Linked DNA regions of Homo sapiens. The protein of the gene in region 1 interacts with the protein of each later gene in a pairwise test. Each region holds a gene or a part of one and is shown in the gene's direction. Other genes may lie near its edges. The genes, in order: OLIG2, LRRFIP1, MCF2L2 and GOLGA3.

Region 1 (8,821 bases):
TTAGGTTGCATTTTTGTTTGTTGTCCTTTCATTTCCCTGGGGCAGCACCCCTTCCTGCAAGCTCCAGGCCTTCCTCTGGAATGCTCCTAGAGCCCAACCTCTGCTGGTGCCTGAGCTTAAGCCAGGCCAGCTAAGGGGATCCTGGATTCACACGGCCTCACAGTCACTCAGATTGTTAGCAGAAGACAAAAATTACAAGGGGAGGGCGTCATGTGATTCTTACACACCCTCCAAATCCAGCAGACACCTTGGAAGCCACAGGTAGCTTCAAGAAACCCATTTTACGGATGAGAACCTGAGATGGAGAAAGGACAACTGGAGATCTCTGAGTCTCTGAGCCCACACTCCCTACCTCCCTGCACCTCCAGGCACTCTGCTGGCAGGATCTTGGGCAAATGCCCACAGCTCTCTGAGAGTCAGTTTTCCTGTCTGTAAAATGGGAGTCATACCTTCCTCCTATGGCCGGTGAGAGACTAAATTAAACTATGTCTGTCAAGACACCTGAAACTCCTGGCACAATTTAGGTTGCCTTCAAGTGGTCACAGTTGTCATTAGGTGGAAGTCAACACCCCAATCATTGTAAAGGTGCCCATATACCCCAAGATCCAGATTACAGCTCTCACAGTTTATTATATACAGCGAAAAAACACATAACACACCTTTGCCCACATTTACATGTATTTTACGGACCATGTTTCACATCAGTCCGCATGCACATCTGCACGTGTGTGCATTCGGCAGTATTTACCAAGCACCTGCCAAGTGCCAGGGCCTGTCCTCCGCACCCGGCGTGAACTGTCCTGGACCAGTCCCGGGAGCCGCGGTTCTGACCAGCCGTGCTGACCCTGGACGACTCCATGAGCTGTTTTGTGAGAAAGACACGCCATTTGTTTGCAGAGTTCTGACTTCTGAGGGGTCATGTAGCACATGTTTGGTAGCCAAACGCTGTCATTCACGACCAGGAGCGATGGCTGCAATGCCTTTTTCTTTGCTTTGCTTTCCGGTGCCGGGAGCCTTGCCTCCCGCCGCCACCCCTGGTCAGCTCTGCGCAAGAACGTCGTTCTGTTTGGCAGCCAGGCCGAGACGCAGCCTGAATGTGAGCAGGAACTCGGAGAAGGGAAGGGAGAGAATCAGAAAGAAGGCCCGGGAGGGACCCGGGAAGCAGTGGGAGGTCTGCGCCCTGGAGCCCCGCGAGAGCCCGCCGGTTTGGCACGGGCTCCTCCCGGGCCGCCCGGCGGTCCAACAAAGGCCGGCCCCGACACGCACCCGGTCTTTTGTGGGAGAGAAACACAAAGAAGAGGGAAAAACACGGAGGAGGCCAACAGCACCAGGACGCGGGGGCCAACCAGGAACTCCCGGAGCCGGGGCCCATTAGCCTCTGCAAATGAGCACTCCATTCCCCAGGAAGGGGCCCCAGCTGCGCGCGCTGGTGGGAACCGCAGTGCCTGGGACCCGCCCAGGTCGCCCACCCCGGGCGCCGGGCGCAGGACCCGGACAAGTCCTGGGGACGCCTCCAGGACGCACCAGGGCAAGCTTGGGCACCGGGATCTAATTTCTAGTTATTCCTGGGACGGGGTGGGGAGGCATAGGAGACACACCGAGAGGTACTCAGCATCCGATTGGCACCAGGGCCAAGGGAGCCCAGGGGCGACACAGACCTCCCCGACCTCCCAAGCTACTCCGGCGACGGGAGGATGTTGAGGGAAGCCTGCCAGGTGAAGAAGGGGCCAGCAGCAGCACAGAGCTTCCGACTTTGCCTTCCAGGCTCTAGACTCGCGCCATGCCAAGACGGGCCCCTCGACTTTCACCCCTGACTCCCAACTCCAGCCACTGGACCGAGCGCGCAAAGAACCTGAGACCGCTTGCTCTCACCGCCGCAAGTCGGTCGCAGGACAGACACCAGTGGGCAGCAACAAAAAAAGAAACCGGGTTCCGGGACACGTGCCGGCGGCTGGACTAACCTCAGCGGCTGCAACCAAGGAGCGCGCACGTTGCGCCTGCTGGTGTTTATTAGCTACACTGGCAGGCGCACAACTCCGCGCCCCGACTGGTGGCCCCACAGCGCGCACCACACATGGCCTCGCTGCTGTTGGCGGGGTAGGCCCGAAGGAGGCATCTACAAATGCCCGAGCCCTTTCTGATCCCCACCCCCCCGCTCCCTGCGTCGTCCGAGTGACAGATTCTACTAATTGAACGGTTATGGGTCATCCTTGTAACCGTTGGACGACATAACACCACGCTTCAGTTCTTCATGTTTTAAATACATATTTAACGGATGGCTGCAGAGCCAGCTGGGAAACACGCGGATTGAAAAATAATGCTCCAGAAGGCACGAGACTGGGGCGAAGGCGAGAGCGGGCTGGGCTTCTAGCGGAGACCGCAGAGGGAGACATATCTCAGAACTAGGGGCAATAACGTGGGTTTCTCTTTGTATTTGTTTATTTTGTAACTTTGCTACTTGAAGACCAATTATTTACTATGCTAATTTGTTTGCTTGTTTTTAAAACCGTACTTGCACAGTAAAAGTTCCCCAACAACGGAAGTAACCCGACGTTCCTCACACTCCCTAGGAGACTGTGTGCGTGTGTGCCCGCGCGTGCGCTCACAGTGTCAAGTGCTAGCATCCGAGATCTGCAGAAACAAATGTCTGAATTCGAAATGTATGGGTGTGAGAAATTCAGCTCGGGGAAGAGATTAGGGACTGGGGGAGACAGGTGGCTGCCTGTACTATAAGGAACCGCCAACGCCAGCATCTGTAGTCCAAGCAGGGCTGCTCTGTAAAGGCTTAGCAATTTTTTCTGTAGGCTTGCTGCACACGGTCTCTGGCTTTTCCCATCTGTAAAATGGGTGAATGCATCCGTACCTCAGCTACCTCCGTGAGGTGCTTCTCCAGTTCGGGCTTAATTCCTCATCGTCAAGAGTTTTCAGGTTTCAGAGCCAGCCTGCAATCGGTAAAACATGTCCCAACGCGGTCGCGAGTGGTTCCATCTCGCTGTCTGGCCCACAGCGTGGAGAAGCCTTGCCCAGGCCTGAAACTTCTCTTTGCAGTTCCAGAAAGCAGGCGACTGGGACGGAAGGCTCTTTGCTAACCTTTTACAGCGGAGCCCTGCTTGGACTACAGATGCCAGCGTTGCCCCTGCCCCAAGGCGTGTGGTGATCACAAAGACGACACTGAAAATACTTACTATCATCCGGCTCCCCTGCTAATAAATGGAGGGGTGTTTAACTACAGGCACGACCCTGCCCTTGTGCTAGCGCGGTTACCGTGCGGAAATAACTCGTCCCTGTACCCACACCATCCTCAACCTAAAGGAGAGTTGTGAATTCTTTCAAAACACTCTTCTGGAGTCCGTCCCCTCCCTCCTTGCCCGCCCTCTACCCCTCAAGTCCCTGCCCCCAGCTGGGGGCGCTACCGGCTGCCGTCGGAGCTGCAGCCACGGCCATCTCCTAGACGCGCGAGTAGAGCACCAAGATAGTGGGGACTTTGTGCCTGGGCATCGTTTACATTTGGGGCGCCAAATGCCCACGTGTTGATGAAACCAGTGAGATGGGAACAGGCGGCGGGAAACCAGACAGAGGAAGAGCTAGGGAGGAGACCCCAGCCCCGGATCCTGGGTCGCCAGGGTTTTCCGCGCGCATCCCAAAAGGTGCGGCTGCGTGGGGCATCAGGTTAGTTTGTTAGACTCTGCAGAGTCTCCAAACCATCCCATCCCCCAACCTGACTCTGTGGTGGCCGTATTTTTTACAGAAATTTGACCACGTTCCCTTTCTCCCTTGGTCCCAAGCGCGCTCAGCCCTCCCTCCATCCCCCTTGAGCCGCCCTTCTCCTCCCCCTCGCCTCCTCGGGTCCCTCCTCCAGTCCCTCCCCAAGAATCTCCCGGCCACGGGCGCCCATTGGTTGTGCGCAGGGAGGAGGCGTGTGCCCGGCCTGGCGAGTTTCATTGAGCGGAATTAGCCCGGATGACATCAGCTTCCCAGCCCCCCGGCGGGCCCAGCTCATTGGCGAGGCAGCCCCTCCAGGACACGCACATTGTTCCCCGCCCCCGCCCCCGCCACCGCTGCCGCCGTCGCCGCTGCCACCGGGCTATAAAAACCGGCCGAGCCCCTAAAGGTGCGGATGCTTATTATAGATCGACGCGACACCAGCGCCCGGTGCCAGGTTCTCCCCTGAGGCTTTTCGGAGCGAGCTCCTCAAATCGCATCCAGAGTAAGTGTCCCCGCCCCACAGCAGCCGCAGCCTAGATCCCAGGGACAGACTCTCCTCAACTCGGCTGTGACCCAGAATGCTCCGATACAGGGGGTCTGGATCCCTACTCTGCGGGCCATTTCTCCAGAGCGACTTTGCTCTTCTGTCCTCCCCACACTCACCGCTGCATCTCCCTCACCAAAAGCGAGAAGTCGGAGCGACAACAGCTCTTTCTGCCCAAGCCCCAGTCAGCTGGTGAGCTCCCCGTGGTCTCCAGATGCAGCACATGGACTCTGGGCCCCGCGCCGGCTCTGGGTGCATGTGCGTGTGCGTGTGTTTGCTGCGTGGTGTCGATGGAGATAAGGTGGATCCGTTTGAGGAACCAAATCATTAGTTCTCTATCTAGATCTCCATTCTCCCCAAAGAAAGGCCCTCACTTCCCACTCGTTTATTCCAGCCCGGGGGCTCAGTTTTCCCACACCTAACTGAAAGCCCGAAGCCTCTAGAATGCCACCCGCACCCCGAGGGTCACCAACGCTCCCTGAAATAACCTGTTGCATGAGAGCAGAGGGGAGATAGAGAGAGCTTAATTATAGGTACCCGCGTGCAGCTAAAAGGAGGGCCAGAGATAGTAGCGAGGGGGACGAGGAGCCACGGGCCACCTGTGCCGGGACCCCGCGCTGTGGTACTGCGGTGCAGGCGGGAGCAGCTTTTCTGTCTCTCACTGACTCACTCTCTCTCTCTCTCCCTCTCTCTCTCTCTCATTCTCTCTCTTTTCTCCTCCTCTCCTGGAAGTTTTCGGGTCCGAGGGAAGGAGGACCCTGCGAAAGCTGCGACGACTATCTTCCCCTGGGGCCATGGACTCGGACGCCAGCCTGGTGTCCAGCCGCCCGTCGTCGCCAGAGCCCGATGACCTTTTTCTGCCGGCCCGGAGTAAGGGCAGCAGCGGCAGCGCCTTCACTGGGGGCACCGTGTCCTCGTCCACCCCGAGTGACTGCCCGCCGGAGCTGAGCGCCGAGCTGCGCGGCGCTATGGGCTCTGCGGGCGCGCATCCTGGGGACAAGCTAGGAGGCAGTGGCTTCAAGTCATCCTCGTCCAGCACCTCGTCGTCTACGTCGTCGGCGGCTGCGTCGTCCACCAAGAAGGACAAGAAGCAAATGACAGAGCCGGAGCTGCAGCAGCTGCGTCTCAAGATCAACAGCCGCGAGCGCAAGCGCATGCACGACCTCAACATCGCCATGGATGGCCTCCGCGAGGTCATGCCGTACGCACACGGCCCTTCGGTGCGCAAGCTTTCCAAGATCGCCACGCTGCTGCTGGCGCGCAACTACATCCTCATGCTCACCAACTCGCTGGAGGAGATGAAGCGACTGGTGAGCGAGATCTACGGGGGCCACCACGCTGGCTTCCACCCGTCGGCCTGCGGCGGCCTGGCGCACTCCGCGCCCCTGCCCGCCGCCACCGCGCACCCGGCAGCAGCAGCGCACGCCGCACATCACCCCGCGGTGCACCACCCCATCCTGCCGCCCGCCGCCGCAGCGGCTGCTGCCGCCGCTGCAGCCGCGGCTGTGTCCAGCGCCTCTCTGCCCGGATCCGGGCTGCCGTCGGTCGGCTCCATCCGTCCACCGCACGGCCTACTCAAGTCTCCGTCTGCTGCCGCGGCCGCCCCGCTGGGGGGCGGGGGCGGCGGCAGTGGGGCGAGCGGGGGCTTCCAGCACTGGGGCGGCATGCCCTGCCCCTGCAGCATGTGCCAGGTGCCGCCGCCGCACCACCACGTGTCGGCTATGGGCGCCGGCAGCCTGCCGCGCCTCACCTCCGACGCCAAGTGAGCCGACTGGCGCCGGCGCGTTCTGGCGACAGGGGAGCCAGGGGCCGCGGGGAAGCGAGGACTGGCCTGCGCTGGGCTCGGGAGCTCTGTCGCGAGGAGGGGCGCAGGACCATGGACTGGGGGTGGGGCATGGTGGGGATTCCAGCATCTGCGAACCCAAGCAATGGGGGCGCCCACAGAGCAGTGGGGAGTGAGGGGATGTTCTCTCCGGGACCTGATCGAGCGCTGTCTGGCTTTAACCTGAGCTGGTCCAGTAGACATCGTTTTATGAAAAGGTACCGCTGTGTGCATTCCTCACTAGAACTCATCCGACCCCCGACCCCCACCTCCGGGAAAAGATTCTAAAAACTTCTTTCCCTGAGAGCGTGGCCTGACTTGCAGACTCGGCTTGGGCAGCACTTCGGGGGGGGAGGGGGTGTTATGGGAGGGGGACACATTGGGGCCTTGCTCCTCTTCCTCCTTTCTTGGCGGGTGGGAGACTCCGGGTAGCCGCACTGCAGAAGCAACAGCCCGACCGCGCCCTCCAGGGTCGTCCCTGGCCCAAGGCCAGGGGCCACAAGTTAGTTGGAAGCCGGCGTTCGGTATCAGAAGCGCTGATGGTCATATCCAATCTCAATATCTGGGTCAATCCACACCCTCTTAGAACTGTGGCCGTTCCTCCCTGTCTCTCGTTGATTTGGGAGAATATGGTTTTCTAATAAATCTGTGGATGTTCCTTCTTCAACAGTATGAGCAAGTTTATAGACATTCAGAGTAGAACCACTTGTGGATTGGAATAACCCAAAACTGCCGATTTCAGGGGCGGGTGCATTGTAGTTATTATTTTAAAATAGAAACTACCCCACCGACTCATCTTTCCTTCTCTAAGCACAAAGTGATTTGGTTATTTTGGTACCTGAGAACGTAACAGAATTAAAAGGCAGTTGCTGTGGAAACAGTTTGGGTTATTTGGGGGTTCTGTTGGCTTTTTAAAATTTTCTTTTTTGGATGTGTAAATTTATCAATGATGAGGTAAGTGCGCAATGCTAAGCTGTTTGCTCACGTGACTGCCAGCCCCATCGGAGTCTAAGCCGGCTTTCCTCTATTTTGGTTTATTTTTGCCACGTTTAACACAAATGGTAAACTCCTCCACGTGCTTCCTGCGTTCCGTGCAAGCCGCCTCGGCGCTGCCTGCGTTGCAAACTGGGCTTTGTAGCGTCTGCCGTGTAACACCCTTCCTCTGATCGCACCGCCCCTCGCAGAGAGTGTATCATCTGTTTTATTTTTGTAAAAACAAAGTGCTAAATAATATTTATTACTTGTTTGGTTGCAAAAACGGAATAAATGACTGAGTGTTGAGATTTTAAATAAAATTTAAAGTAAAGTCGGGGGATTTCCATCCGTGTGCCACCCCGAAAAGGGGTTCAGGACGCGATACCTTGGGACCGGATTTGGGGATCGTTCCCCCAGTTTGGCACTAGAGACACACATGCATTATCTTTCAAACATGTTCCGGGCAAATCCTCCGGGTCTTTTTCACAACTTGCTTGTCCTTATTTTTATTTTCTGACGCCTAACCCGGAACTGCCTTTCTCTTCAGTTGAGTATTGAGCTCCTTTATAAGCAGACATTTCCTTCCCGGAGCATCGGACTTTGGGACTTGCAGGGTGAGGGCTGCGCCTTTGGCTGGGGGTCTGGGCTCTCAGGAGTCCTCTACTGCTCGATTTTTAGATTTTTATTTCCTTTCTGCTCAGAGGCGGTCTCCCGTCACCACCTTCCCCCTGCGGGTTTCCTTGGCTTCAGCTGCGGACCTGGATTCTGCGGAGCCGTAGCGTTCCCAGCAAAGCGCTTGGGGAGTGCTTGGTGCAGAATCTACTAACCCTTCCATTCCTTTTCAGCCATCTCCACTACCCTCCCCCAGCGGCCACCCCCGCCTTGAGCTGCAAAGGATCAGGTGCTCCGCACCTCTGGAGGAGCACTGGCAGCGCTTTGGCCTCTGTGCTCTTTCCTGGGGTCACCTCTGTCTCCTCTTGGCCATTGGGTTCTCACAATCCAAACCCGCGATGCAAATTTAGGATGTGGCTGTGAAGAGAGATTCTGGGTGGAAATAAAAATACTTTGGCCTTCCTGGTCAAGGACCAGGGCAGATCCTGTTGTAGTCTCCGTGCCCCAGGGCTGGCCTGAGAATGAGCCCCTGAAAAGACAGCGGGTACGGGCACCGTAAGAACATCCCCTGGTCCAGGGTCCTCTCTCTGACAATATTTTTGGTGGCCACTGGCCACCCTGGAACTGGGGGTGCAGAAGATTTCCCCAGTCAGAACCCCATTTCTTGAGTCGCATAGCTGAGCCTGGCTCACACAGGCAGGCACCCTTTGCTTAGACTTAAAGACTGCTCCGTCCCCTAGCAAGGGACAGGCACTTCCTGCTCCTCCAGCAGGGAATGTCGGACTGCTGGCCAGAACAGCAGTGGCCCAGGGATTGGGTGCTGGAGGCCTAGTTTTTCACCGATGGGCCTGGCTTTTTGCAAAGGCTGGGAGGGATTTGGAGAGGCTGAGCAGCTGGGGGCTGAAGACGGGTGGAAAGCCTCCTGCCCCCACCACCCCAACAGCGCCATGTGAATCCAAGAAGAAGGAAGGGCAGGGTGTAGTCGTTTTTATTCTGAAATCCCATTTGAAATGAAACTTGAAAAGAATTCAAAACTGGGTCCAGCTGCAGCCACAGACACACTCAGAGGGACTCCAGGAGGCTGGAACGTAGACCAGTGGGCGCTGAGAACCTGGCCGGTGGGGGTAGGGGTCTTGATTGCAGTTTTGGCTCTTCCACACCCA
Region 2 (8,300 bases), on another chromosome or scaffold:
GAGAGTCTCAAGCATGAGTCATGTGTTAAGATAAGTAATGACAGCGGACTGATTCCACGAAGGCTGGGCTTGGATGTTCTTTAGATAGAAAGCAAGGAATACTTTTTTCATACTTTTAGGAATTGTCCAATTTTTCAGAGATTCTGAGAAAAACAGAAAATGTAATGTGTGAGTGTCGTTGTTGTTGTTGTTTTTAACTGGCTATTATCCTCTAAATCCAAAGGGTTAAAACCAAGGTACCCTTGACAACCTTCAGGCCTGCTTCTTCGACTGCTATAGAATTGAGTTGGAAGCTGAAGAACATTTTACGCACAAAGTTCCTTATAGCTGAACTCTGCAAGAGGGGAGCTTTTCACAAGACTGATGTCATGTGGGAACGGAGGAGTGGAGAGCACAGCCCAGCCCCCCTTCGGGTGGGGGCCTGTAATGCATATGCATTCCTCCTGGAATGCTGTCATTAGGCATCATTCAGTGGACTGAAAACTCCCGAGTCTCACTCCAGAGAAGCTGGATGGTGCTAGAATGCTGTCCCGAGATGGACACAGGGGCCATGCAAAGCCCCACAGGAGGGCCCTTGTCATAGCCAGGAGGGCACCAGCCACCCCCAAGCTAAAGGAAGTGGGCGAACAGAAGTGCCAGGGTGAGCAGAAGCTCAGGCCAGATCCCATCTCAGATCACCCGCCTGACAGGTCTAGGGAAGGAGCGTCCTGCAGGCCTGTAAGCTGTCAGCAAAGTGAGTTGGGTCTCAGGCCGTCACCAGGGATTGCGCTGCTGTGACTGGGCAGGAACACAGCAGAGCCGAGCTGCCAGCTTCCTGGGCTGAGCCTCAGGTGGGGAGGCCAGGCCTGAGGAGCAGCTAGGTTTTGCAGGCTCTCCATTTGCTCCCCCAAACTCTCCTGTTTTTGTCTCTTAAGGGGCAGCCCTGAAGCACAGAGCTGGCCACCAGCTGTTCATGAGAGATGCTTTAGTAGGCCATGTTTATCTCCTTTTTATCCCAAAGAGTTTTCCTTGTCATATTTCAGCAGGGGCCATTTTATGGTAAGTCCTTGCAGGGCAGCCTCACCCAGGCTCTCAGCACAGTGCTGTGGAAGACACCAGGCTCCCTGGGGGGGCCCTTCGTCGGCTCTTGCTTCACTGTAGATAAGAAATCAGAAAATCCTTGTTGATTGCATCAACTCCTCAGGTTAATTTGACAGTAAGTCATCAGGCATCATCTATAAAGTCCAGAGGAATCTGTTTGTGTTGTTTGAAAGGGCTTGAAGGCCAGGTGCAGTGGCTCATGCCTGTAATCCCAACACTTTGGGAGGCTGGGGCAGGTGGATCGCTTGAGGTCAAGAGTTTGAGACCAGTTTGGCCAACATGGTGAAACCCGATCTCTACCAAAAATAGAAAAATTAGCCGGGCATGGAGGCAGGCGCCTGTATTCCCAGCTACTTGGGAGGCTGAGGCAGCAGAATCGCTTGAACCCAGGAGGCAGAGGTTGCAGTGAGCTGAGATCGCACCACTGTACTCCAGCCTGGACAACAGAGCAAGACTCCATCTCAAAAAAATATATAAATAAAAAATAAAATAAAAGACCTTGAAGATTGTGATGATGTAGTAGCAGGTGATTTGTTCCACAGAAACTATAAATCGTGAGAGCCTGAACTGGCATGCCAGAAACATGGGATTCCACTGCTTTAGTGCTGTTTTTCTCCTTTACAGGAATTTGAAAGGGAAAAACACGCCCACAGTATACTGCAATTTCAGTTTGCTGAAGTCAAGGAGGCCCTGAAGCAAAGAGAGGAAATGCTCGAGGTAGGTAGCATTCTCCTGCTTTTCTTTTCCTTTTTTCCCTTTGGAGCATTTTGTCAGGCCATGACTATCTTAGCTTAGGCTGCAGTAATAAAATACCATACACAGCATGGCTTAAACAACAGAAATTAATTTTCTTACAATTCTGGAGGCTGGGAGTCCAAGATCAAGGTTGGGTTCAGGTGAGGCCTCTCTTCCTGGCCTGCAGACAGCCACCTTCTTGCTATATCCTTCCTCCAACGGTGGAGAAAAAGCAATGTCTCTGATGTCTCTTCATATAAGGACACTAATCCTATTTGATCAGGACCCCACTCTTATGACCTCATTTAACCTTAATTACTTCGTAAAAACCCTATCTCCAAATACAGTCACATTGGGCATTAGGGCTTCAACAGATGAATTTAGAGGGACACAATTCATTCCATGGCAATTACTAAAGTTTTCAGTTTTCTTAAATCTGAGAGTTTAGGCTAACTCTCCATCCCTAGATTTACGAAACAGTCCCTCTCATTGGTGAACATTCCTATTCTTTGGTGATCTTGTATTTGTTTGGGGAGGTGTGGTAGACAGAATAATGGTCCCCCGAAGTTGCCTACATCCAGATCCCTGGAAACTGTAAATATGATGCCTTACATGGTTAAAGGGCCCCTGCAGTTGTGATGAGAGACCTTGAGAGAAGGGATTATCCTGGATTATTTGATGGAACAAGCATCCTTCTAAGAGGAAGGCAACTCAAAGGCAGAAGTAGAAGATGTGACACAGGAAGCTGAGGTTGGAGCGATGCGAGAGAGGGGCCATGAGCCAAGGAAAGCAGCTCAGTCTTAGAAGCTGAAAAAGGCAGGGAAACAGATTCTCCCTAGAGCCTTCCAGAAAGGCTTGATTTTAGCCCATAAGACTCATTTTGGACTTCTGACCTCTAGAATTGCAAGAGAATAAATTTGTGTTTTAAGCTGCTGAATTTATGACGATTCATTACAATGGCAATAAGAAACTAATACAGGGTTGGTTTTTAATTTTTTGACTTAATCGGTTCTTTAACTGCTGCCTTGAAGTGAGAATTTCACCCAAAGCAGGTTTTCTTCCTGCACTTCTTGAAGCCGGAAGTAGGACAAGGAAAAAAATCCTAGAATGCTGACAATGAGTTCAGGGTTGATGAGGTGAAAGAGTGCTTGCGGCCTCACTCACTGTCCCAGCTCTCAGGTTCTCTCTCGGGCTGGGGTTTTTCTTCCTCTTTAACCCTTTATCTGCTTTCTGTCTGTTCCTTTCCTCAGGAAATCCGACAGCTACAGCAGAAACAGGCGAGTTCTATCAGGGAGATTTCTGATCTTCAGGAAACAATAGAGTGGAAAGACAAAAAGATAGGGGTAGGATTCCCAAGTCTTGAAAATCTACTCAAATGGGCAGCCTGCTTAGCAAATAGAGTTTTTTCAGAGTCTTTAGTTTGCAAAACCGCTTGTCTGAGTATGCATGCAACTCCCACGTGACACAAAGTCGTATTAATTTATTTAATTTTATTAAGTAGTGAATACACTAACTTATCCAAATTGATATGAACTTGGATTGTGACACGGACTCTCCATGGAGGGTCTTGTGAATGCGTAGCTGTGCGCTCTGCCTGCCCCGTGGCTGGGCCGGGCCGGTGGTTGTTGAAACAGCTGGAGTGAGGAGGACACTCTGAGGAGGTCTGATGTGTGCAAGTCCAGACGTCTTGGGATTATCTGCCTGGTGGTGCTTTGAGAAAAAAAATCTAAGCACCACCAGGCAGATATCCCCACTTTGAAATCTTCCCCAGGGAAGGTCTCCACATACCCTTCTCCCTCCACAAGAAGAAAAGAGGCAGTTCTACACTTAGAATTGAAGGATAGGGGGAACAGAACCCCACAAAGTAGTTGTCATGATTGGTAACAACAAATGGTTTCCCCAAAATGGTGATTCCTACACATAGCTCTAATAAAGACGTCGAGATACCTGCACAAACCATCGGCACGTTGACTCAAGCCACACTGTGTTTCCACTGTCACGCTCATCAGCACTTAGGAGTGTGTGTGTGTGTGTGTGTGTCTGCATGCACGCACACTTTAGGACCACTTCATTTATCTGAGATGATGGATACCAAGAATCAGTGTATAAAAATAGTCTAAATGGCTACAACAGCCGTCCTGGGAGGTGCTTAAGCAATCCCTTTTCTTTACTGACCCCTCATTCAAGTGGAGACTTTGCGTAACTCTAACGCAGCTGTGAACACGCAGACAAAGCTAGAAAGTGATGCAAATATAGTAACCTCTGGGGCCCCGTGCTGTGTCCGTGTGCTTCAAGATGCGCATGTCTTTCATGGAGTATGAACAGTAACATTTCTTGGATTATATATACTAAGCGAAAAGCTTAATACTTGGATTTTGTTAGTATCTTTAGGCAGAGTCTCTTTAATGTCTAGAGTCCACTAGTGTTTTAGATGGTAGAAGCCTCCTTCTGGTTCCTGCTTCTGAAGTAACTTGCTCATCTGTGCAAATCTTCTTCTTTCTCTTGGCTCTGCTGCACACTCAGGCATTAGAGAGGCAGAAAGAGTTCTTTGATTCCGTAAGGAGTGAACGGGATGATCTTAGAGAAGAAGTAGTCATGCTGAAAGAGGAATTAAAGGTATGAAGCCAAACTACAGTTTTATTTAAAAAAAAAGAAAAAAAATCCAGGTGACAACAGCAAATTTTGGGATGCTGTGAATATGTGTGTACATAATTCATTTTATGTCATTTAGTTCTGTTAATAATTCATATATTGGGTTAACTGACAGCGATGAGATGTAAAATAAATGTAGGTTCAGTGGGTGGTGCCCAAGGCCTTTTGATGTTAATAAACATAGCCAATCTTGAATGCAAGAATTTTTTGATACATTATCTAAATTTTTCTCATACTCACTAGTAAATTCTCCAGGATATTACTCAGACTTAGAGAATTAATTTGCCTCTTTATATTAAAACCCCCAATTTAAGGACTTCTCTAGAGGAACAGTGACTTGGGTAAGTGGTTTGGGCAAGGATCCCGCTAATTAGACTTTGAGACCTACTAGATTACAGGTGGAAGACGGTTCCCTGTCCTTGGTGGGCCACGCCAAGGCGTCTTCAGCCGCTGCTTGACACAGGTGAAGCGCCAGTGGCAGCACTCTGGGTGGGGGGGTTCCTGAACCGTCACCATCTGCTGCTTGGCCTCCAGGGTCAAAGCCAGAGCAGTGAGCCAGCCAGCTACAGGCTTAGAGCTAAGATTCGTAATTCTGCTCCTTGAAGAGGCGATCAGTTCAGGGGAGTTCCTCACACACAAGGGAGAGAGAGCCACAGGCGGCAGGAGGGCATGGGTGAGTGATGTCTGCAGTTGGGAAGTGCTGCTGTTTTCAGTGAATTCTGTTTCTTTTGAATATACTGAACATTCTAGCCACCTCTGAATTCCTTCTTTAACATAAGTTTCGTGTGTCTCTTTCAGAACATGTATATATTTCTTTCTTTATCTGGTTTCTCTTTTTAAAGAATGCAATCAGGGTTTTGAAATGAAAGGTCACTTGGCAGTGACTTGCTTACTGCTCCACTTGGGGGCAGCCCACAGGCCACTACCTGTAGTTAAAAAGGATGCCTGGTGGAAGTAGCTTGTCACCAGCAAATGAAAGCATGGATTGGAACATCTGAGAAAGAAGTAGCCTTTGGAGGACGATATCCCAGATTTGTGTGTGTTGACCGAATATTTACGAGTGCTGCACCCTAGCATTTCTCTTGTCTCTGTGGAGTTACCCTGTACTTCAGGAAAAAATGGTTTTCTTTTTTATTATTGTATTAAAACAGAGTTTAACCTAATATCACTGAGTAAATATTACGATGAGCCTATTTTTGTTCCCAGAAACATGGAATAATCCTAAATTCAGAAATAGCTACCAATGGAGAGACTTCCGACACCCTCAATAATGTTGGATACCAAGGTCCTACCAAGATGACAAAAGAAGAGTTAAATGCCCTCAAGTCGACAGGGGATGGGACCCTAGGTAAGTATTTGCTTTCCTTCGGCTCCTCACACCTTTCCACTCAGCATTGGTTCACCCTCCATGCACTGCTGGGGTTGGAGCCACCGTCGCTGATGGGTTAACAGTCACCAGCATGCCATTTGTTTCATCACTTCATGGTAATTTCCTTGCCCACCCGGTGTGGTCACCCACGTGTTGTCTGGCATGCATCTCTGTGTAGTGCACCATCAATGGCTCAAGTGAACCTTTTCTTTTGCTGCTCAAAGCTACCAAGCAAGACTGTGAAGGCAAAAGGAAAACAGTCTCAAAATTAAGTAACAATGTGGAGAGTACTATTTGGTTTTCCTCAGACACATATATATCTGTACCTATAAAGTGTGGCTTTTTAAACCGATTCTATGACAGAATTATCAAAAGATCAGAATGGTTGAGGCCGTCAAGTCAGTTGGCCATATTTGCAAGCCAACATCGACATCCTGGGCAGCATTCAGCGCTTTGAGGGTACGGGGTGCCTGTGGACAGCAGGTCCGTCTGTGTTGCCTTTTTCAAGCCACCGCTCGAGGTGGGCAGGCGGCCGTGGTAGTGGGTGTGGCGGTGCTGAGAGTCTGAGTATGCCCACCTTTGTCAGAGGGGATCCTCCTTTGTATGCCACGTGTTTGCTTCTGAAAGAATATAAAACTGGGGAATCCAGTAGATCAGAGGAATATTTTATACCATTTTCAATGATCTGATTTGTCATAATTTGTCATAAGAGTTGGCTTTGGGAGAAACCTTCAGATTCTGGCGTGCAGCCTGAAGTTGCAGCGTGCAAGTGAGGCCTCATCTGTCACTGGTCACCCTCTGCGTTCCAGTGTTTTACAAAGAGGCTGGAATAAGGTCAGGGTCCGTGACTTTTCATTTTAATGTAGAAGCTTTCATCTTATTTCTTTTTATTTATGGAAATGTAGACACCTCCAGGCCCCATCTTCTCAGGCCTCGCATTCCAGGGAGGTACCTCATTCATTATCTTTATGACTATTAAAGAAACACAGCTCTTTTCAATTGTGTAAAAAAAGTTGTGGCCTAGTGCAGTGGCTCACACTTCTAATCCCAGCGCTGCGGGTGGCCAAGGCTGGAGGATCACTTAAGACCAGGAATTCCAGGCCAGCCTGGCAACCTAGCAAGATTCCGTCTCTAGATAGGTATGTAGTATCTATATACCGTTGTTGAGAAAAGATAAATTAATCAATTTCCATCATACCTTTATATGAGCTACCCGAACAGCTAGGAATCTGATTACGCTGCTCTTACTCAAATACACATTTTATAAATCTTTGATAACCATTGTGAAATGTTGTAAGAACCAGAAATGTCAGTTTTGAAAGTGGCCTTCAAATGACTTTTGATCACATATTCCTTCAGCAAAGAATTGTAGGATCCAATATGTATGTTTATTTTAAATCTACATATGTATACTATTTCATTAATATAAAATGTACGTTATAAAATATATGCAAAGATATGCAAAGAAGTTTTAGAGTAAAACTCTAAATAGAATTCCTAATATTTCCCCCATTTTCCCTGGGATATGGGCACCCCACCATGGAGATCACTGGGCTATAAAATTATCTAGCTTTGACTTTCAGTAACATAGTACCATATCTAATCTGCTGGGGTTTTGTTTGGAGAGTCCAAAAATTCCAAAACAGTTTGATGTTCTTTAGACGATGAATAATTTATCATTTAATTTAGTGGTCATCTTGATCTTGAACATTTGCCTCCTGCTGGTCCTCTCTCCCTAGTCCCTTAGGGAATGGAGCAGAGGTATCAGGGCATGGACACAGGGTGTTTTCTCAGGAAAACAATAGTTGAGTGGCAGAAGATAGATTTCCTTTCATATGAGCTATTTCAAAAGCATCTTCCTTGAGACTGACCTTGAGGCTGCATTTCTAAAAGTGCACTGAATATTCTTTTTAAAAATTACTTGAAAGCTGCTTTTAGGGCTGTGTGACATGGAGTGCAGTTTGACAGCTGCAAAAGTACAAGTTGTCAAGTTGTTCATTGAGAAGTGAGAGTGGGGAATTGAACCTTCAGTCTGTTCCTAAACCCATCATTGTGGATTGTTTGGCTGCCTGATCCAGAGTTCTTTCTATTTGTTGAAACTTAACGTCACCTTTAAAAATCTGTCCACACAAGATGGCACCAGCAGCCACTCTGGCCTTTGATGTGGTGGCAGTGGCCCTCACTGACCCAAAATTTACTAATGCAACTGCTGCTTTGCCGCACAGAACTGGCAAAGGCTTGTTTCTCATGACTCTTTGATGACTCTGTCTTTAGGAATAGGGGTGGGTGGGATTTGGAACGTGTGTTTACATTCTAATGTAGATTATGTGGCCGCCACATCATGGGGTCCCTTCAATTTTCTCAATGGTCTTTTAGGAAGAGCCAGTGAAGTGGAGGTGAAAAATGAAATCGTGGCGAATGTGGGGAAAAGAGAAATCTTGCACAATACTGAGAAAGAACAACA
Region 3 (7,879 bases), on another chromosome or scaffold:
CCGCACTTTCCTCCGCAGAGAACCAGGGGCTTTGCCTGCAGGATGCTCTCTAAGGTTTTCTGGTTCTGAGAATTCTGAGTTTCTTCCAGGAGCCCTGGGGGATACCTGGTGAATAGGTTACTGTCTCTGCTGGCAGGAACCCGGGGCCTGGAGGGAGACAGGCGAGGGCACACCCAGAGCAGCTGCAGTTTGTCTCAGGAGAGACGTGTCACCCAAGGGCTTGGATGAGACTCCCCCACCTCCGCAGCCCCCCCTCCTGCTTTGTCTCCTAGGATAGAACAAAGCATGATAGGATGAGGTGGGACAGATGAGGACTTCACACACTCTAAGGGTAAATATTGTTCCGTCCGCTTGTGTTTGAATTGTATAAATGTGTTTCTGCGTGTATGCTGTGTTAGGGGGTAAAATTTGCATCTCCCTGAGGTTGCACTCTAAGGTGTATGGAAAACCTGGCTCTAGACTAAACCAGGCCCCCCGTGGTGCTCCAGGCATCCCCACCCTCACCTGTGGCACCCGGAGCTCCTGCTGTCACTGGCCCAGGTGGGTCCTGTGTCTTTCTCTGCGTTGTCAGGGCCTGCGCTGACAGTCCCCCACAGGGAGGTGGAATCTGGGGTTGACAGCACTGGGAGGATCCTTCCTCTTTCCACGTTCAGGCAAATCCTCGCCTGGAGGCAGGGAATGGGCTAGAGGAAACAGTTGACTGTTTCAGATGACCCTGAAACAGTTGAGTCCAGGGTCTGAGAGCCCCTCTGTGCCCAGCGCTGTGCCCCCTTCCCTTCCCCGCTTCCCTGCAGGGCCCGCGAGAGCAGGGAAAGCAGCTGCCAGCTCCAGGCAGTCATTTTACCCCAGGTGCCACTTACCCTGCAGAGGGGCTGGAACCAACTAATCATTTTACCTGGAGGTACCACTTACCCTGCGGAGGGGCTAGAGCTTGTCAGGTTTTTCAGTTCCTGTGTCGCCTCCCAGCCCTGCCCACCCCAGGCTGTGGCTGCCTATGGCTGACGAAGGCTCCTGAGCCAGGCCCAACCGCCAGCCTCCCAGTGGGTGGCTCTATGGTCCCTAGCAGCCCTGGCATCATCCGGGGCACAGAGGCCATGGACCCTGGAGACACAGCCCTTCCTATTCATGCAGGGGATGGTCAAGGGCATGGCTCCCTCTGTCCCTCTATCCCTCCATCACAGAACTTTCAGCAAGACAATCATTCTTCCATTCTCACTGCTTGCTCCTGGCATAAGGGGACCCCAGGGCTGGATGACTTCTCTAAAGAGGAGTCTTGGGTTTCCTTAGATGCTCCCAAGTCCTGTCTGGAGGATGAAGGCAGGGGGCACATCCCTGAGGCAGTTTCTCCTCTGCCCTCCACCCCTTGCCCCTCCCACCTCCTGGGACTAGGAACTCAACCAGGACTTGCTTCAACCTGAGAGGAGGGTGTCCAGCCCCCTCGGAGCCTGCCAGAGTCAGGCAGGATTTCAGAGGGGCCTCCAGGGAGGTGCTGCCCAGCTGCCCCCCCGCCCCCATGTTACTCACACAGCCCCCACTGATCTGCTCTGGGGAGGGCCTGGGGCCCAGAACGTGGCTTGTTGGGGGCTTGGGGCAGCAGCCCAGGAGACGCTACTTGTGCTGCCTGCTCACCCAGATAACTGCAGCTCCCTCCACTGCCGCCTACCGCCCTCTGGCCATGCCTCTGCCCAGAATGCCCTCCCTCTCCAGTCCTGTCTGCCCCTCAAGTCCTGCCCAAACCTCCCTGAATTCTCGCCTGAGCAGACACTTTCCTAGCACGGCTCCCGCCGCGTAGACTACTCAGCTGACCCTCGGTCTGGGGCTGTCCTGTGTTGGGACCTTTCTGCAGATGCTCTGCTCCCTACCCTGGCTTGTGAGCCATGTGGGGCAGAGACTCCATCTCACTCAGAGCGAGGGTAAAGAGCAGGAGTGCTGGAGAAGACAGCTGCCCTGCCACAGGCCAAGAGGACTTGGCCAAGTGACCATTGCTGTCTGTTTCCCCAACTGTAAAGGGGGCTGAGACCCTTACAGGGTTGTGAGGCTTAAACTTTGACAAATGCCTAACATACCACCAGGCACAGGGCAGTTGTTCAGTATTTGGCAGTGGCTGCTGTTCCCCACAGTGTCCAACACCGCCCCAGGGATGTAACATGTGCGCCATAGACAAGACTGATGGATTAATTAATCAGTTCACTGCAGAGAGAGGCAGGATGGATGCACTTGCTTGTTCCTCTGATTTTCCCTTATGGGGAGCAGTGACACTTGGCAGAGGCTGCCAGGGAGATGGGAAATGGACATTAATTAGGGGAGAGAAAAGGAGGCAAGGAGGGGAGGGTGAGAAAGAGACAGGGGAGGAGGAAGGGAAGGAGGCGTGGTTAGAAGACTGGCAAACACAAAAAACAATGACTGTTTTCTTGGAGGAACGGGGAGGTAGGGCCATGAACAGCATGTGGACGCGCCTTCTCGGTGAATTACGGCATCTCGGCGCTGGAAAAGCAGCCTGGAGATCACAGACCCCCTCACAGCCCAGCGCAGTGCAGGCCCTTGGAGAGCAGGAGTTAGAGATGGGGAGGACCGTGCCTGCAACAGGCACTGCCTGCTACACCCTGCCATGGGCAGAGGGGATGTCCTCCCACCCCACAGAGGCCCCATCCTTCCCTTTCTCTCCCTAAGGCTGCTCCAGCAGGGAGTTTAGCTCCATGGACACCTTTGAAGACTGTGAAGGCGCAGAAGACATGGAAAAGGAGAGCAGTGCTCTGAGTGTAATTACTTCCCTTTTGTTTCTTTCATCTTCTTCCCTCCTTCCTATTCATCAGCTCCTCCTGCCTCCTGTCCCTAGCCTCCATCCCTCTCCCCCTCCTCAGGATTCTCACCCATAAGGACCTGGTTAAGCCAGGGAGCCGAGGTCACCAGACCCTCAAACTGGCTCTGACCCTCCTAGTCCAGCATGTCCCCACGTGGCTGTCTCCTTGGCGGTGCGCTGGTGTCCGGTCATAACTGGGGCTCCCGCTGAGAGCCCCGTGGCCCAGGTGGGAGGGCTGGGGTGGGCCTCAGCCTGCCAGCGGGAGTCACCACCTTGCCCGGTCTGGCCACAGCCTCCAGCAATAACTCTGAGGGTGCACCCGTCCCCTCCCTTCCAGCTCGCGGGCCTTTTCCAGTCGGACGACAGTCACGAAACCTGTTCCTCCAAATCTGCTTTCCTGGAGAGGGGAGAAAGCAGCCAGGGAGAAAAAGAAGAACGCGATGAGGAGGAAACGTGAGTGTGAGCGAGGAAAGACTAAGCGCCTCTTTGGGCCACGGCGTCTCTGACTTTCTTCTCGGAATTGCAGGGCGACCCGCAGCACCGAGGAGGAGCGCGCTGGGGCGTCCACGGGCCGGCTGGCTCCTGCGGGGGCGACGGCTGGTTTCCAGGCGAGGGCGCTGCGCCCGAGGACCTCCGCCCAGGAGAGCTGACCTCCCTGCGGACGCCCCCGCTCCTCGGCTCCAGAGCGCCCGCATTCCCGGGAGAGGCGGTGTGGGGGCCCGGGCCCTGCCCAGCTACGCAGAAAGCAGCCGGAGCCTCGGCGGCGGCAGAAAGGGGACAACCAGGGCCTCCTCCGAGGAGCCCGAGGGGTGTCCTGGGTGCGCGCCTAGCTCCGCACGGGGGACCTCGGAGCTGCTCTAAGGCGCCTGCAGAGGCGAGCAGAGCCCGCAGCCCACGCCTTCTCGACCGCGCACTTCGATATTCGGAGCCGGGCAATTCTTTGCTGCGTGGGCTTCTCTGTGCTCCCACGGTAGGATGTTTAGTAGCACCCCTGGCCTCTACCCACTAGGTGCCAGGAATGCGCCACCCCATCCTCCACCCCGCCCCCAAATCGTGACAATCAAAAATGCCTGCAGACACGCCCGCATTTCTCCAGGGCGGGGTGGGAATCGGTTGAGAGCCGCTTAGCCCGAGCCTTGGAGGAGCCGGAGCCGCTCCAACCCGGCGGGGGCCGCAGACTGGGAGCTCCCGGTCCGCCTCCCAGCATCCCTGCGAGCGTTCATGGGGTGTTCGTGTTAGTGCCAAGATTGCTTCGTTGTAGAGAGAGTTCGTTCCAAGTTACTTTCTGAGGTATTTTATGTATCGATTTATTAGTTTTTAAATGAGTTTTGTTAGTTTCAGTTGTATTTTATTTTTAGTTTTATTAGTTGATTTTCATTTCTTTGTAGCTTTCTGGTTATTTAATTTTATAGTTTCAGTTACTGGTTTATAGTTACTTTATTTTCAAAGTTATTTAGTTGTTCATTTTCAGTTATTTATATGTAGTTGTTTTGTTTTAGGAGTTACAGATGTTCAAATTAATTTGCTTGGAATTTATTTATTTATTTATTTATTTATTTTTCGAGACGGAGTCTCGCTCTGTCGCCCAGGCTGGAGTGCAGTGGTGTGATCTCGGCTCACTGCAAACCGCCTCCCGGGTTCACGCCATTCTCCTGCCTCAGCCTCCTGAGTAGCTGGGACTACAGGCGCCCGCCACCACGCCCGGCTAATTTTTTATTTGGATTTTTAGTAGAGACGGGGTTTCCCCGTGTTAGCCAGGATGGTCTCGATCTCCTGACCTCGTGATCCCCCTGCCTCGGCCTCCCAAAGTGCTGGGATTACAGGCGTGAGCCACCGCGCCCAGCCGGAATTTATTTTTAATTATCTTTACAATTATTATCTGAGTTATTTACCTTCATAGTTATTTCACTTTATCTTATTGGAGTTTTTGAGTTATTTATTTTTACAGTAACTTATTTGACTATTAAACACTCACTGGAAGTTCATGAACTACTGTCAAGTTATTTATTTTCAGAGTGAAATGTTTTAATGAAGGGTTTCCCCTAGTTATCTGGTTTTCGAGTTGCTTATGTTCACAGGTATTTATTTTCAGTTATTTTATATTTGAGTTGTTTATTTTTATGTTCTTTTTTTCAAGTTACTTGGTTTTTAGTTATTTCATTTTCAGCATTACTTCATATTTGAACATTATATTTTCTGAATTTTTAAAGAGTTTTTGAGGTATTTAGTTTTTGAGCTATTTTCAGAGTTATTTATTCTCAGTTATTTCTTTTCAGCTTTGTATTTGCCATTCAAATTTTTTTTCTGTTCTTTATTTAATTGTCAGATTTTTTTTTCTTTTTTTTTTTTTTTGAGATGGAGTTTTGCTCTTGTCACCCAGGCTGGAGTGAAGTGCCGCAATCTTGGCTCACTGCAACCTCCGCCTCCCGGGTTCAAGCAATTCTCCTACCTCAGCCTCCCAAGTAGTTGAGATTACAGGCACCTGCCACCATGCCCGGCTAATTTGTTGTTGTTGTTGTTGAGACGGAGTCTCTCTCTGTCACCCAGGCTGGAGTGCAGTGGTGCAATCTCGGCTCACTGCAAGCTCCACCTCCCGGGTTCACGCTATTCTCCTGTCTCAGCCTCCTGAATAGCTGGGACTACAGGCATCTGCCACCACGCCTGGCTAATTTTGTTTTGTATTTTTTTTTTTTTTTAAGTAAAGATGAGGTTTCACCATGTTAGCCAGGATGGTCTGGATCTCCTGACCGGGTTTCGCCATGTTTGCCAGGCTGGTCTCCAACTCCTGACCTCAGGTGATCCATTCGCGTTGGCCTCCCAAAGTGCTGGGATTACAGGTGTGAGCCACCACACCCGGCCCTCAGAATTATTTAGAGTTAGAATTCTTAGTCTACTAGTCAAGTTTCAATCAAGAGACACTGTATCAGTTATTTCAAGAGAGAATTTAATATAAATAATTGTTATCCAGCTAGTAGAGATTTAAAAAAAAGTAGTGATAATGAGATATCATGAAGATTTTGACTGCAAGCTCCCAGCCCAAGGACTCATACAACAAAGAAAAGAGGTTGAAAATATCAAAACTCAGAAATATGAAGGTGGCCCTAGGGCTGGGGGTTAGTCCTCTGAGGAGGAGGCACTATTAATTGTACACGTGGCCCAAGGGCTCAGAGCTCAAGGTCCAGGAGCTGGACGCAGAATTCTGGAGAGGGGACATGGCCAGCCCGTGCTGCTGTCTCTGAATGGGCATCAGCAGGCTGGTTATAGGAGTGCTAGGAAAATGGCAAGCTGGAACCAACTCCCGCTACTGGAACCAGCTGTCACTCTCAGGGTGGAGACAGGATGCTGACAGTGGGGGTGGGGTGGGGTGCACACAGGAAGGAGCCCATGGTGACCCTGCACCCCAGAGCTGGGAAGGGTGGGCTGGAAGCTTAATTACCAGCACACTCAGCTTTAGAGTTACATAGAGTTATGTTAGGATTCCGTTAGTTTTGGAATTGTCAGGGGTGATTTGATTTCACATTTTCATGGGATATGGGATTGGGATGAGTCTTCAGTCTCCTGGTTTGTTTCTGGAATAGAGTGGGCCACACCTCCCAGGAGTCTCCCCCAGGGAACTCAAGACAATCACTTTAGAATTCAAGAAAACAAAAATAATGTGTCTCACTTCGTTCATAAAGAAGGCCTTTGACAACGTGGCCAAAAAGGGGCAGAGCCTAAGGGACAGACTCTTAGAAAGATGCCCTTGGAACAGGGTCCCGCAGAGTGTTCCTCTCAAATTCTTTAGAACTTTACACTGTTTTGTGGGGCCACCCTCTCCCACGCCCTTTCCTAACAACAGTGTCTTTCTTGATAGAGTATGTTTCAAATTTGTAGACTGTTTGCACAATAAAATAAAGTTCCTCCCAAATCAAGAATCTGTAATCTTAGGTTCTTCTACCTGCATTATTCTTCAGCCCACATTGTTCCATTTGACCATCAGAATGTTTACATATGTATATATGTCTGGATGGATGGAAGGATGGATGGATGGATGGATGGATACACTTATTTTATTCAATATCTATTTCCTGAGCATTCCCCTGCCCTGAGGATGGTTCTGGCACCAGGTAGAGACCAGGGAGGTATGAAGATGAGTGAGGCTCTCATTCCAGTGGGGGAGACAGATGTGGAAAAATAATCACAACACAATGTGGCAAATTCTCTGGGAGCATAAAACACCATCACTGACTCTTCCTGATACCGTCAGGAAGGGGTGACATTAGAACTGGGTCTTACTGGCAAGTGTTCTTCTCCTGGTGGAGAAGGAGAAGGGCATCCTGGCAGAGGGAATAGCATGAGCTCAGGTACAGGGGCACAGAGGAGCTGTGCATGGCAGGTAGGACGAGTTGATGGAGGCTGCTGGGTCACAGGGTTCAGAAAGGCACTAAGCTTAAGAGCTGGCCCTGGTGCTTGACAGATCCTGCTTCATTTGGTCCTGCAGCAAGTCTGCAAGATAGTAGGGAGCAACCTCAGGAGTCCCATGCTTCTCCTGACCTTACTTTTCCAAACACAGTTTACATTTCTGGATATCTTAAGCTCCTTCTTGATTTTATCCATCTCCCACTTTTCACGTGTCCATCGGAGGTGAGTTGCCCCCTCTCCTTCACCTTTTGATTCCTGCTGCTTACACATCTGTAGGGATGGAGGAGGGTTGAGACCAGAAAGCTGTGAAGTGCAGACTTCCTCTGACAAGGGAGGTGGAGGAGAGCAGGGCAGAGACCTGCTTGTGGGAATGGCATGCAGAAGTTCTGCAGACCAGCACAGTGGGGAATGGGCTCCGGACATCACCAGCTGTGACTGCCTCCAGCTGCATTCAGCAACCATGGAAAGGTCGTGGGGATGCCTTTCCAAAAGTGGGAGGCTGCTTTAGATCCAACCCAGGCTTATGAATGCAACAGATTGGGATTTTTTAAAGCACGTAGAGCCCTTTGCAGCATTAACAGCAATAAACATGCCTCCCAAGTCAAAAGAAAATATAGTCCTAAGACTATACTTTCAGGGATCATTTCTATAGTTCGTCACTAGAGAAGTTTCTCTGAA
Region 4 (3,500 bases), on another chromosome or scaffold:
ATGGTTTTCTGAATATGGTATTAAAAGATAAACCAAAACACAGCTAGAGCCATTTTCCAGGGCAGTAAAGCCACTTTAATATTCTTTTGGCCATGTGACTTTCCCCTCTTTAGATGGAAAATCTCAAATGGGAGGTGGATCAGAAAGAAAGAGAAATCCAGTCCTTGAAGCAGCAGCTGGACTTGACGGAGCAGCAGGGCAGGAAGGAACTGGAAGGGCTACAGCAGCTGCTGCAGGTACCTGTGTGTGAGGCGCTGGGCACAGGCGGGAGCAGCAGGGAGGAAGGAGCTGGAGGGGCTACAGCAGCTGCTGCGGGTACCTGTGTGTGAGGCGCTGGGCACAGGCGGGAGCAGCAGGGAGGAAGGAACTGGAGGGGCTACAGCAGCTGCTGCGGGTACCTGTGTGTGAGGCGCTGGGTACAGGCGGGAGCAGCAGGGAGGAAGGAGCTGGAGGGGCTACAGCAGCTGCTGCGGGTACCTGTGTGAGGCTCTGGGTACAGGCGGGAGCAGCAGGGAGGAAGGAGCTGGAGGGGCTACAGCAGCTGCTGCAGGTACCTGTATCTGAGGCGCTGGGCACAGGCGGGAGCAGCAGGGCAGGAAGGAGCTGGAGGGGCTACAGCAGCTGCTGCAGGTACCTGTGTATGAGGTGCTGGACACAGGCGGGAGCAGCAGGGAGGAAGGAGCTGGAGGGGCTACAGCAGCTGCTGCAGGTACCTGTGTATGAGGTGCTGGACACAGGCGGGAGCACCACTTCTGGGGCAGCCCCTGGTTCCTGTGCCATGCGGCCTGCGGCCAGGCAGTGCTCCCGGGGAGCTGGCGCCCTCGTCCAGTGGGGCGCTCGCAAAGCCACCTGGTCCACGTCATGCGGCAGGACAGAGGCAGGGGCGAAGCCTGGGCCGGCTCCGATCCCTTGGCCGCGCTGTGTGTCACGGACCAAGAACGTGATTTCATGGACTACAGCAAATGGGAGGGTGCGTGGGAAAAGTTTGCCAATTTGCGATAAACTTCTCAACAAAGAACTCAGGGTTCGGTCTTGACTGCTCGGGAAAGGAGTGTAATTGCTAAGTTCCCCTTGTAAATGAGGGGCTTGAGTTACAGTGAGAATTTATTTATAGACACAGGCCGACAAGCGTCCATCATCCAGAAATCCAAAACCTGGCCAGGCCTGGTGGCTCACACCTGTAGTCCCAGCACTTAGGCAGTGAGCTGTGGTTGGACCACTGCACTCCAGCCTGGATGACAGAGTGAGACCCTGTGTCTAAAAAAAACAAGAACAAAAATCCAAAATCTGAAACTTTCTGAGCATCAACATGATAAAGGAAATGATCATTGGAACATTTCAAATTTTTGGATTGTGGATACTCAGCTGGTAGTTGTAACGCAAATATTCAAAATTCCAAAATTTGACACACTTCTGGTCCTGAGCATTTTGGACCTGGACTGGCATCATCTAGATGGCGCCGAGGAGGACATGTGTGTGCTTAACCTATGAAAATACAAACTCGGATCTTGGCAGGATGTTTAAGATCTGTTAGCTTTTAAAAATCTGACTTCATTTTCCACAGAACGTCAAGTCTGAGTTGGAGATGGCCCAGGAAGACCTGTCCATGACCCAGAAGGATAAATTTATGCTCCAGGCAAAAGTGTCGGAGCTGAAGAACAACATGAAGACCCTGCTCCAGCAGAACCAGCAGCTCAAGCTGGACCTACGCCGCGGCGCGGCCAAGACGGTACTCAGGCCCGCGTCCCTCCCGGGGTAGCCGACGTGCGCTGTAGATGCTCTCGGACAGGAGGCTGGCAGACGTGTTAGTCATTCAGACATAAACGGATTTGTTGAGCCCACACTGAGCAGCTGCTGTGTAGTCAGTGGTAATGGGGTGACAGATGAAATCATTTCATTCTGGTTTCATTCATCCAACAGTGTTTTCCTCGTTCTGTGAATTCAAATACCACTTTGTTGTAATGTGCTTTGTAAAGCAGATGAGCGGTGGTCTGTGACTCGGCAGTCCCTGCTGTGTGTGAAGGGCTGGGGCCCGGGAGCTGTGCCCAGGCGCCCGGCGGTTTTCTGTGCTCGGTCCACATCCATGTTTTCCAGGAGGCAGGTGGGAGGGCAGCGCTCGGATTGAGAGGCCGTTTAGCGTCGTGTGCTTATCTGTGGAAAAAGTTTGAAGTCCCAGAAAAGGGAGCCTAAGCTGGAAAACTTACTTAATTTCTTACGGAAATTCCACATCAAGGTCTTGAGTATCTGATGGGAGAAGCGTCTGGGAGAGCTGTAGTCTGTGGCTCGGCCCCGTCCTGCCGCAGACCCAGGACTTAGGTTGTCTCTGCTTTGCTCTGGTTTTGTGCCTTAGGAATAAAGGTGTTTCCTCAGCCAGCTATTCTGGAGCTCCGGGGACTGTCGTGCTGGGCTGCCACGGCGGCCAGGACGGTCCCCTTCCCAGAGGCCCCACGTCCACCAGTTGGGGAGGCCCGTTTGCCACAAGCTGTGCTAGTGAGACTGACCCGAGGGAGGGGACGGTGGGAAAGCTGATCATGTGCTTTTAAAAACAGAGAAAGGAGCCGAAAGGCGAGGCCAGCTCTTCCAACCCTGCCACGCCCATCAAGATCCCGGACTGCCCAGTTCCCGCCTCGCTGCTGGAGGAGCTGCTGAGACCACCGCCCGCCGTGAGCAAGGAGCCCCTCAAGAACCTGAACAGCTGCCTCCAGCAGCTCAAGTACGACCGTATTCCGTGCTGCACTTCAGCTAGTCTTAAAGATTAATGCCCTCTTACCTGGGAGGGCACTCCTGGTGCCAGTACTGAGTGCCCAGCAGAGTTTCAGCAGGTTTATATAAGGGTGGGGGACTCGCATACATAGCCTCTGAGGTTTATATAAGGGAGGGACTTGCACACACAGCCTTTGAGGTTTATATAAAGGGGGAAGGACTCAGCCTCTGAGGTTTATATAAAGGGGGAGGGGGACTCGCACAGCCTCTGTGGTTTATATAAAGGGGGAGGGACTCACAGCCTCTGCGGTTTATATAAAGGGGGAGGGGGACTCGCACAGCCTCTGAGGTTTATATAAAGGGGGAGGGGGACTCACACAGCCTCTGCGGTTTATATAAAGTGGGAGGGGGACTCGCACAGCCTCTGAGGTTTATATAAAGGTGGGGGAACTCGCACACACAGCCTGTGAACTCATAGGTGGAAACTGCCTGGAGTTAAACTACCCTGATAGGCCCTGAGAAGCTGGAAGGCCACACATGGTGCACCTGGCAGCCTGAGGCTGAGCGAAGTGTGTAGGGCGGAGCCAGGCGGCGCCCCGAGGGCAGGTAACGGAGTGGAAGTCGTGTGTGCCAGGCCTCAGTGACAGCTTCCACCCTGCCGCCTGGTCAGGACTGGTCCTTGAGCCTGTGTCCTCTGCACAGTGTAGAGAACGGTGCTGAGAACAGCTGAGCTTCTGTGGTCTCAGTTGGTTTGCGGATCCCCGAAGGCGCCCCGGTCCACTCAGGTGCTAGCGAGT

Evidence for each region.
Region 2: the proteins of OLIG2 (region 1) and LRRFIP1 interact in a two-hybrid assay, tested with the Homo sapiens proteins (one large-scale study listed by BioGRID and IntAct).
Region 3: the proteins of OLIG2 (region 1) and MCF2L2 interact in a two-hybrid assay, tested with the Homo sapiens proteins (one large-scale study listed by BioGRID and IntAct).
Region 4: the proteins of OLIG2 (region 1) and GOLGA3 interact in a two-hybrid assay, tested with the Homo sapiens proteins (one large-scale study listed by BioGRID and IntAct).

Annotation. Positions count from the first base shown.
Region 1 is NC_000021.9:33,021,820-33,030,640, forward strand, and holds OLIG2 (oligodendrocyte transcription factor 2), read left to right. Parts: upstream 1-4,115; 5' UTR 4,116-4,207; intron 4,208-4,216; exon of another isoform or gene 4,217-4,441; intron 4,442-4,981; 5' UTR 4,982-5,043; coding exon 5,044-6,015; 3' UTR 6,016-7,366; downstream 7,367-8,821. UniProt on the Homo sapiens protein: Required for oligodendrocyte and motor neuron specification in the spinal cord, as well as for the development of somatic motor neurons in the hindbrain. Functions together with ZNF488 to promote oligodendrocyte differentiation.
Region 2 is NC_000002.12:237,754,391-237,762,690, forward strand, and holds part of LRRFIP1 (leucine-rich repeat flightless-interacting protein 1), read left to right. Parts: intron 1-1,704; coding exon 1,705-1,797; intron 1,798-3,065; coding exon 3,066-3,158; intron 3,159-4,338; coding exon 4,339-4,431; intron 4,432-5,673; coding exon 5,674-5,815; intron 5,816-8,212; coding exon of another isoform or gene 8,213-8,300.
Region 3 is NC_000003.12:183,174,951-183,182,829, reverse strand, and holds the end of MCF2L2 (probable guanine nucleotide exchange factor MCF2L2), read left to right. Parts: intron 1-2,670; coding exon 2,671-2,759; intron 2,760-3,137; coding exon 3,138-3,253; intron 3,254-3,326; coding exon 3,327-3,450; 3' UTR 3,451-4,789; downstream 4,790-7,879. UniProt on the Homo sapiens protein: Probably functions as a guanine nucleotide exchange factor.
Region 4 is NC_000012.12:132,773,370-132,776,869, reverse strand, and holds part of GOLGA3 (golgin subfamily A member 3), read left to right. Parts: intron 1-113; coding exon 114-236; intron 237-1,564; coding exon 1,565-1,729; intron 1,730-2,549; coding exon 2,550-2,713; intron 2,714-3,500. UniProt on the Homo sapiens protein: Golgi auto-antigen; probably involved in maintaining Golgi structure.